Regions from separate parts of the Homo sapiens genome. Here region 2 is linked to region 1. Evidence: fine-mapped expression QTL. Tissue or cell type: whole blood. Region 1 holds a variant in brackets; the other region holds the start of a gene. All regions are shown on one strand. Distances are between the middles of the regions.

Evidence for each region. PIP is the estimated chance that this variant, and not a neighbour inherited with it, causes the effect.
Region 2: EIF3L starts here. The variant in region 1 is fine-mapped to the expression of EIF3L in whole blood (INTERVAL, PIP above 0.99).

Annotation. Positions count from the first base shown.
Region 1 is chr22:37,997,144-38,002,341 of GRCh38, forward strand. It overlaps a transcript of POLR2F not described here. Among named protein-coding and RNA genes, the nearest start is that of MIR4534, 11 kb to the left of the region's middle. RefSeq lists enhancers at 1-44, 1,195-2,049 and a silencer at 1,439-1,733. The variant G/A (reference allele first, on the strand shown) is at 2,734.
Region 2 is chr22:37,847,075-37,852,192 of GRCh38, forward strand. It overlaps EIF3L (eukaryotic translation initiation factor 3 subunit L), which reads left to right and starts at 2,345. Exons shown (of 13, transcript NM_016091.4): 1 at 2,345-2,408; 2 at 2,941-2,989; 3 at 4,206-4,416. The coding sequence starts at 2,376. MIR659 (microRNA 659) reads right to left here and starts at 700; the gene lies at 604-700. It also overlaps a transcript of ANKRD54 not described here. RefSeq lists enhancers at 1,464-1,986, 1,987-2,509, 2,510-3,031.

The DNA of each region.
Region 1 (5,198 bases):
AACACAGAGGGGCCTGGGAGGGCCCTGAGCTTCCCAGCCGGAGTCTCCCCTCCATCCCCTCCTCTGAAGGCCTCTTCCCCCTGACCTTTCTCCCTTCTTTTCCACTTCGGCCTCCACCTTGTTTCTTTCTCTGTCCATTGCTCCCTCCTTCTCCTCTTTCTGTCCCCAGCCTCCTCTCTCTGGGAAGCTTTTTAATTTTGACCCCACATCCCACAGTTGGTCGCTCCTGCCTCTTGGTGTCCTTCTTGTCCTGGCCCTCCTGCCCTGGCTCCCTGTCTCTCTCCAGCCCTGTCTCTGTCTCTCCCTGTTTTTCTCTCCCTGATGCGTTCTCTCTGTCCCTCCCTCCATGAATTTCTCTGTCTCTGTCCTGTGCCACCTCTCATCTGCCCTGCCTCTGTAAATGTGGGGAGGACCCTGGGAAAATGACAGAGATGGGGAGAGCTGACAAGTTAGAGAAGCCAAGGCTTGTGGCAACCTGCAGTCTTCCCCACCTGGCTCCAGCCTACCTTCCCCAGGACACCCGGCTCTGTCCCCTGCATGCCCTGGGTCACCCTGCCCCTCCCTCGTGCCTGTGCCCAGCTCCGCATCTCCCTCTTCCCATTTCCAGCTTCCCTGAGACTGCCCCGGGGCCCTTTCTCTGGCTGTCCCAGGGACCTCACCTCCTGTGAGCCCACAGCTCACCGTCTGTCGAGGGGGGACAGGCAGGAGGTAAGGATGCGTCCGAGCCTCCCTAGGACACGACCCTCACAGAGTCATGGACCGCAGGATTTGTACCATCTCCTGGCGCGAGAGCCAGGGTTGCCCAGATTGATGGAAGAGCAGGTGTTTGTGTCCCCTTCCGGTGAGAGCTTTCCAGCGCCCAGAGAGCCAAGACGGCTTGTGGAATTGGGGAAGAGGCAGGGAGAGGGTGGGAAGTGGGAGTGGAGGGGTATGTTCTTCCCCTCCCGGGGCCTCAGTTTCTCCTCACAAGCTCTTCCCTCTCTCTCATTGTCTAAGCCTTTCCTTCCCGCCTCTGGTCGATTGGGGGTGGGGCAGGGGCAGGGAATGAGGGGATGTTGGGCTTTTACTCAACGGAGCAATTTATCCTGTGATCAAAAGAGGCCATGGCCGCCTCATCTCTCCTCAGAGACCTGCCCTGACAGGTGGTGTCCTGCCTCCAGTCCGTGTTAACTCCCTCAAGGCCAGGGCCGGGCCGAGGGTCTGAGCCTTCCACCTGCCCCTTGAAGGGGCCTCCCTGGGGTCCAGAGACATCAGGCTGGCCCTGGGGAGGCTGTGGACCCTGGGCCTCACACTTACATCTGGACAGGCCTTCTGACTTCCAGGGCCTGGTGAGAACCTCAGGTGAGGAGTTGCTGTCAGGCTCCCTGGGCAGGTTGGGGTGGTCCTGCTGTCCCACCCTGGGGACTTTATTCCAGGGGCTGTGGGCTGGAAGGAGCCCCTGTTCCTTCCAGACTCCCTCTCTGCACCCTCCCTACTGCTGGCCCTGTGGCCCTGGGCGTGGGATGTGCAGAGGACCGGCCAGGAGAAGGGTTAAGTCAGGGACTCTTGGGATGGCTTTGGCCACGGCCATTCCTCCGAGAGAAGAGAACAAGGGGCCCATTCTGTGTGTGGGAATTAATAGCAAAGAGTCATCTGGGGTGTCACTCAAGCACTGATCGACTCCCAGAGGAATGTGAGAGGGAGAGAGAGAGGGAGAGGAGAGGAGAGGAGAGGAGAGGAGAGGTGTGGTGGGGGCTGAGACGGAGATGTCAAAGGCAGGGCATTAGGGTCTGGCTGGTACAGGAGCCCGCCCTGGTAGGAGGACCCGCCGCCCCAAGATGGGTCCTGCTTTTCACCACAGATGCGCCCCCGTCCCTACACAAGATGAAGACCCCCTCCTGTCATTCCCTCACCCAGGGCCTCCCCCTTCTGTCTTCCCTCATTCCCAGACGGCCGTACCCTCTACCCCGAGGTGGGCCTGCTGGGCAGCTGGCCCTGAGTTCCTGGGCTCTCCCAGTCTGCCCCCATCTTTGCTGAGAGATCCAGGTGCTCCTTGTGGGAAATGCCCTGGGGATGGTGCTGTGGAGTGCCAGCCTGGGGTCCTGAGTTGTACCCTCTGTCCCAGGATCCAGGAGCCCCACTTGCCTGGCTCCAGGCCCAGTTCAGACACATTTCTACCGGGTGGCTGCAGGCACCTTTGGCCGCCTGCGTGTGGGGATGCTGGAGCTTGTCGGCCATCACAGGGGGCTCAGCCTTCCTCGTCAGCTCAGGCCCCTGTGGCAGCCTCAGCCTGGCCTGTGGTCACTGAGGACCAGCAGGTCTCCTGACATCCGAATGTCATACCCTAAGGAAGGCCTTGGCGAGGCTCCAGGAGGCCTAGGAGGGTGTGGTGCTCTCCTGCTCCAGTTGTGGGGCTGAGTCAGAATCCTCCCAGGTCATCTGCACCTGGGCGTCCTGACACCCCTTCCCCTCCCCAGGGCCTCAGGCTGGCCACCGAGCCGAAATGAGCCTAGACTCTGTGGGACGCAGAGGCAGTGGGGTGCGGAGGATGAGGGCTTTGGGGCAGTCAGAGCAGGGTGCCCCACTCCTTGGCCCTGTGACCTGGGCAGAGCTCCTTTGTCTCTCTGAGCCCCGGGGTTTCCTCTTGAAAATGGGTCATGTCATAACTGGCAGGTTCAGAGGTAAGAGAAGGTAACAGGTGTCAAGTGCCCGACACAATAGCCAACCACTGTGTGTTGTTATTTTTATTGTGAT[G/A]ATTATTGTTATTGGAGGGCTGGGCAGCCTCCACTACCCTTGGGCTGGAAGGCACACTGTGCACACCATTTGACTGCCTGGATCTGCACCTGGCAGCCTGTGCCCGCTAGGCGAATCGCAGGGATCCCAGCACTGTTCCTCCTCAGCTGTGGTTTTGGCGAGGGTGAGCTTATTGGCCCCCAGACCTCCTGTGTGCCAGCGTCATTTCCATATCTGGTGACTCATCCTGCTGGTCCTGCCGGAACATGATGCCTCCCCTGACGGCATGGTGCAGGCACAGTGTGTGCAGCCACTGGCCTCGGTTCCTCCCCTGGGAGTTGGCCACCTGCGCCCCCACGGTAGACTCTGGCATGCTAAAGCCTGAAGGGAGCTTAGCGGTTGTCCAGCCGGACCTTCTTATTGTACTGACAGGGAGCTGAGGTCTAGAAAAGAGAGGGCCTTTCTGGGGCACTGTGGAGTAAACAGAGTTGGCAGGCTCTTCTACATTGGGCTAGGAGTCTGGACTCCTGGGTTCTTGCCCAAACTTGGATGCTAGGGGCCAAGTGGGCTGGGAAAATTCCTTACTTATAGCTGGGGTGGGGAGAGGACACACGGAGAAAGAAGGTGGAGCCTTTTGCAAACTAAAGTGCTTTCCAAATATGGGGGGTTATCAGGAGGGTGGCTTTGGGCCCCTCGAGATGGTGCTGACCCTGTGTTCCTCTGCAGTCTGTGCAGGGCACTAGGGTGGTTGGTGTCACCAGCCCAGGGGCTGCTGGACACAGGCCCCACCCAGAGGAATAAGCCAACACCATTGAGGAGGGGCAGCCCAGGGCTCCCTGCCTGGCTTTGGAGGTGTAAGGTGTTTGAAATAACATTCTCCAACATGCTCAAAGTGAAACCAGCTTCCTTTGGGAACATATGGAGACCACAGGCACTTCACAGGGGCTGATGAGGACCCACCAACTCTGCTGTGGGCTCTGTCCCTGCCCTCGGAGCTCATAGCCTGGTGACCTTGGCATTCATTATTTTCATTCCAGTTCTCAGCACAGCGCTTGGCACATAGTAGGAACTCAGGAAGTGTTTATGGGATGGAATGGGGTGATGATGTTGAGGCAAGATGAAGGGTATGAACGGAGATGACATCTGCGTCTTGCCTGGAAGCAGAGGGTAGGAAAAGGAGCAAGTAAGGAGTGGCGGCTGGCATGGGTGCAGCACCACTGAGAGGAGGGGTTGAGAGAGGTTAGAGAAGGACTAGAGTCAACACTCCTGAGAGCCCTTCTTTGCCCTGTGGCCTCTTACTTGCAAGCTAGTTCCCCTCTCTCAGCCTCAGTTTCCTAATCTGTAAAACAGGGATAATAGAATTTATTCATGAGTTGTTGCAAGGCTCAAGAACGGTAACACATGGGCCATGGCAGGCTCTCGACCGTGCCTGCTGGACACCCAGTGTGTTGTGAACAGAGATCTTTAGAGAGAACAGATAAAAATTACAGAAGTATCTTATAGAGACACAGTTGACAGATACAGAAATAATGTGAGTTGCATCATATTAGATTCAGAGAGATTAAAGATAGATTTTTAGGGGAATTTACGAATTTATTCATTTTGGGGACACAGAGAGCGATGAGCACTGGGATGGAGACAGTGAATGCCTGACATTGGAGGCTCCTGGACTATAGAGTTGCTTTGTTTGTTTTTTGGATGGAGTCTCATTCTGTTGCCCAGGCTGGAGTGCTATGGTATAATGTCGGCTCACTGCAACCTCTGCCTCCCAGGTTCAAGCGATTCTCCTGCCTCAGCCTCCTGAGTAGCTGGGATTACAGGCATGTACCACTATGCCTGACTAATTTTTGTATTTTTAGTAGAGATGGGGTTTCACCATGTTGGCCAGGCTGGTCTCCATCTCCTGACCTCAAGTGATCTGCCCGCTTAGGCCTTTCCAAGTGCTGGGATTACAAGTGTGAGCCACCTTGCCTGGCCAAGTGGTTTTTTTTGGATGGAGTCTCACTCTGGTGCCCAGACTGGAGTGCAGTGGCATGATCTTGGCTCACTGCAACCTCTGCCTCCTGGGCTCAAGCAATTCTCCCACTTCCGCCTCCTGAGTAGCTGGGATTACAGGCACCTGCCACCATGCCTGTATTTTGTAAAAATACGAAAATACAAATTTTTGTATTTTTAGTAGAGACCAGGTTTCACCATGTTGGTCAGGCTGGTCCCAAACTCCTGACCTCGGGTGATCCATCCACCTCAGCCTCTCAAAGTGCTAGGATTACATGCGCGAGCCAGCACACCTGGCCTTTTTTTTTTTTTTAATTTATTTTTTTCCCCAAACTTGGACAAAGCATATCACTTCTAGACTTTTTATTGGGCCACAAAAGTGCTTAAGAACTAAAGAAGAAAACTCCAGCTCCAAAGTATACAAAAATAGCAACAGAGAAATTATTCAAAATTTTAAATGAAAAATAAAAAAGACTCTTTAAAACTTGTTT
Region 2 (5,118 bases), 150 kb before region 1:
GATCTCCTGACCTCATGATCCACCCGCCTCGGCCTCCCAAAGTGCTGGGATTACAGGCGTGAGCCACCGCGCCCGGCCAATTTCTTTTCTTTTTTCTTTTTTTTTTTGAGGCAGTTTTGCTCTTGTTGCCCAGGCTGGAGTGCAGTGGTGCAATCTTGGCTCACCACAACCTCCGCCTCCTAGGTTCAAGTGATTCTCCTGCCTCAGCCTCCCGAGTAGCTGGGACTACAGGCATATGCCACCATGCCCGGCTAATTTTATATTTTTAGTAGAGACGGGGTTTCACTATGTTGGCCAGGCTGGTCTCGAACTCCTGACCTCAGGTGATCCATCTGCCTTGGCCTCCCAAAGTGCTGGGATTACAGGTGTGAACCACTGTGCCAGGCCTCGGAGAAGGGTTATTATTTAAACTAGAAACTAAATGTCTCCCAAAGTTAGCTCGGTTCGAGCCAGGAATGATTAAGGGCAGTCTGAAGATTAAATGGAAGATGAGGGTTGGTTAGATCAGATCTCTTTCACTGTCATTATTTTCTCACTGTTACAATTTTTGCAAAGGTGGTTTCAGCAATAAAAATATTTCACAAATTTTACAAAAGCAAAGGACCATGAGGACATTGTTGGGGACCCTCCCTGAACCAAGGAAGAGACTGTGACTCTTCCTTGGTTCAGGGAAGGTCCTGAACCAAATCGAGGGTCGGTAAAGCTTAAGCTCCATTATTTCCAAATTTGTGTCACCTCTGGTGACAGCACAAGGAAGAAACACAAAACAAGAACGCAGCATAGGGAGTTGGGGCTGGGCATTGCAATTCTCAATAGGATGTTGAGTGGATGGCATCAGAGCAGACACCTGAAGGTGCCATGCAGATACCGATGGGGAAGGGAATGGGAGTGGGGGTGCCACTGCATTCGATTCTAGACTTGGATAACAGTGAGTGCAAAATCCCAGAGGTGGAGCGTGCCTCAGTGGGAAAAGCAAGGAGGGCGGCGTGACAAAGGGACCCAGAGAGTCCTGGTCACACAGCAAATCAGTGGCGGAGTAGGGACTGGAACTCGGATTTCCACTAGGTGTTGTGTATGGGCAGATGGCTAAACTAAGGCCTCTCCTTGACTCATACACCGGTTTTTATTGGTTTGCTTTATAACCCCATCTCTACCTTGAGGGTTTCCCCTGGCCTCGAACCCGGTGTACTCAAGAGCTGCCCATGTCCCAGGCTTCGCGACACAGCTGGCCTCATCTTTGCCTGCTCCAACTTTAATGTCCAAAGTTGGGTGGCTCCTGTTCTCCATTCCCTCTTACTGCATGGGACCAAATCTCAATTTTTTTTTTTCTTTTTTTTTTTAGACGGAGTCTTGCTCTGTCGCCCAGGCTGGAGTGCAGTGGCGCGATCTCGGCTCACTACAGCCTCTGCCTCTCAGGTTCCACCGATTCTCCTGCTTCAGCCTCCTGAGTAGCTGGGATTACAGGCGGACGCTACCACTCCCGGCTAATTTTTGTATTTTTAATAGAGACGGGGTTTCGCCATTTCGGCCAGGCTGGTCTCGAACTCCTGATCTCAGATCATCCACCCGCCTCGGCCTCCCAAAGTGTAGGGATTACAGGCGTGAGCCATCGCGCCCGGCCAAATCTCAATTTTTATCCCCAGTAAGTTTAGTCTTGTGAAGTCCGAACGTTTGAATAATTTACTCGCTGCAGGCAAACCGCCTACAACTAAATCCATCAGGCCCCCGTATCCGAATCTTCCTTCACGCGAGAAGCCGGCCATCTTTTGTGTAGCATTCTTTCTGGTTCCTCTAACTTTGCCTCTCCTTTACGCCAAATACGTGTCCTTATATCTGAATCTACACCACTATTATAGATTCACCTTCTTTGAGAAGTCCCTATTTGAAGAGAGGAAAATTCAGGCTACTTGTAACCCTCTTATTCTTTTTAGACGGAGTTTTCCCTCTTGTTGCCCAGGCTAGAGTGCAATGGCGCGATCTCGGCTCACCGCAACCTCCGCCTCCCGGGTTCAAGCGACTCTCCTGCCTCAGCCTCCCGAGTAGCTGGAATTACAGGCATGCGCCACCACTCCCGGCTAATTTTGTATTTTTAGTAGAGACGGGGTTTCTCCATATTGGTCAGGCTGGTCTCAAACCCCCGGCCTCAGCCTCAGGTGATCCGCCCGCCTCGGCCTCCCAAACTGGTGGGGTTACAGGTGTGAGCCACGGAACGCGGCTCCTCTTCCTTCTGGATATGGCTGTCTCAGATGGCCAGAGGCCTCGGAAAGGCTTCCGGTTTCCCGGCAGGCCCGAGTGGGGCTGAACTTCCGGCCTCAGGACGCAGGCGCGGGCCGCTCATTTCGCTCTTTCCGGCGGTGCTCGCAAGCGAGGCAGCCATGTCTTATCCCGCTGATGATTATGAGTCTGAGGTAAGGTGGCCGTAAGGGCGCGGTGGGCTCCACGACGGGGTGATCTCTGGGACCACTGGATGTGGGTCCCGGCGCGAGGCAGCTTCCGGGTCGCGGCCAGCTCCGGCCGACCTCCCGCCCGGCCCTCAGGCTGCTCCCACAGTTCCCGGTCCCTAGACAACCCTGGCTCTGCCCGCCCACTTCGCGTGTTCGATTGGCTTGTCCTTCCCCTTTCTAAGACCGGAGACTAAGGCCTGTTAGACGTTTCTGTGTTTCTGCACCTGAGTTTTTTTGGTCTAGGCTCCGTCTGGTCAAATCTCGCTGATTCCCACAGCCTCTTGTCCTTTGCTCCACCTCATTGCACCCGTAATGTTGTATTGTCATTGTCTGTTTACTGTCCCTTTTCTCTAAGGCGTGTGAGTTCCTCAAAGGCAGGCACAGTGTCTTATTCGCCTCTGTATCCTTAGCTCTCTGCTTGGCATCTAGACTCTAGGATGAGCGTTTTGAATTCACGACTTGGCGGCTGTCCTTGACTGTGTCTCTTTCCTTCTAGGCGGCTTATGACCCCTACGCTTATCCCAGCGACTATGATATGCACACAGGTGAGACCACGGGTTAGGCTGGCTGAGTACTCGTAGGGATCAGTTCCTTTGGAATGTCTTAGAACCAGCTCTGACAGGCATCAAAAATTGCTCTTTGATGGTCCAGGTTTGGAGTCAGTCATTAGCTGCCAGTGCGAGGGGTTTTATAAAGCCTAATAAACCAGGCTTTTTATCATAGTCCACCTCAGTCTTGGAAGAGAAGGATTACTTACCTGGCTATGGTTTTCTTGTGTAAACTATTAGCCAAATAAGAAAAGCTTTTTTGTTTTTGTTTTTGTTTTTGTTTTTGAGATGGAGTTTCCCTCTGTCCCCCAGGCTGGAGTGCAGTGGTGCGATCTCGGCTCACTGCAACCTCCGCGTCCCTCGTTCAAGCAGTAGTTCTCTTGTCTCAGCCTCCTGAGTAGCTGGGATTACAGGCGCCCACCACCATTCCCAGCTAATTTTTAAATTTTTTTAATAGAGACGAGGTTTCGCCGTGTTGTCCAGGCTGGTCTTGAACTCCTGACCTCAGGTGATCCACCCGCCCCAACCTCCCAAAGTGCTGGGATTACAGGCGTGAGCCACCGCGCCTGCCCCAAGGAAGAAAATCTTGATGTGAAAAATTTAAGTAATTCAAACCAAGCCCGAATGAAATCTTTTTAGGAGGTGTCTGAGGTTTCCTGAAACGTTATAGTGACTTGACTTAGTAGTCAGTGTTATCCATTGTTCTAAGTACTTTGTATGAAATATTTTGTTTAATCCTTACAGCAGTTCTGTATGTTAATGTCTCCTAAAGAATAGAAAATATAGCAGAGAGGTTTATTAGTAGTAACTTGGCACAGTCATATATTTAAAAGGTGACAGTTATTCATTCAAGAAATATTAAGTACCTGTTACCACTTACTTTCCAACAGTCTTGCCTCTCTCCCCTCCAACGCACACTTTTCTAGGCCCTGAGGGTATGTCTGAGTACAAGACAGACGAGATTCCTGACTTCCTAGACTTGGGAGAAGGGTGCAAAACAGATAATAAGTGAAAAATAACTTTAAGTCATGGTAATATTTTTGAAGAAACAGGGACAACGAGATTGGGAGTGACTTGAGATGTTTGTATCTCTGAGTATTCAAAAGGGAATTTTACGCAGACCTGAGTTTAGTTTCTGGGGTGGTCTTGCCATTTCGTTCTATCATATATGTGGGTTTGAGCATACTCTGTATTTGTTGTATCCAACCTCCAGGAGATCCAAAGCAGGACCTTGCTTATGAACGTCAGTATGAACAGCAAACCTATCAGGTGATCCCTGAGGTGATCAAAAACTTCATCCAGTATTTCCACAAAACTGTCTCAGATTTGATTGACCAGAAAGTGTATGAGCTACAGGCCAGTCGTGTCTCCAGTGATGTCATTGACCAGAAGGTGTATGAGATCCAGGACATCTATGAGAACAGGTATGGGCTACTGGCTGAAAGGGCCTCTTTCTGGGTGGGACTGGCCTGGTAATATAGTTCCTACAAATGAGGTGAGCACTCTGTAAACAGTACTTTCGGGGGGGTTGGGGGGTGGGGGTCTTTGTGAGTCCTTGAGGCTAGGGACATTTTATTTTGTTAGACTTTATTTTATTTATGCATTTGTTTATTTTTTGAAACGGAGTGTCACTCTGTCGCCCAGGCTGGAGTGCAGTGGCAAGATCTCGGCTCACTGCAACCTCCGCCTCCTGGGTTCAAGTGATTCTCCAGCCTCAGCTTCCCGAGTAGCTGGGACTACAGGCATGTGCCACCATGCCTAGTTAATTTTTTTGTATTTTTAGTAGAGACAGAATTTCACCATGTTGGCCAGGCGTGTGTTGAACCCCTGACCTCAAGTGATCCACCCGCCTCAGCCTCCCAAAGCACTGGGATTACAGGTGGGAGCCACCATGCCTGGCCTAATTTTTGTATTTTTAGTAGAGACGGGGTTTCATCATGTTGGCCAGGCTGGTCTTGAACTTCTGACCTCAAGTGATGTACCCCCGTTGGCCTCCCAGAGTGCTAGGATTACAAGCGTGAGCCACCATGCCCGGCCTGTTGGACTTTATATCCTCAGAAATTTATACAAAGCCTAAAATAATATCACTATTAACAATTATAATAATAATGATTAGCATTTGTTTT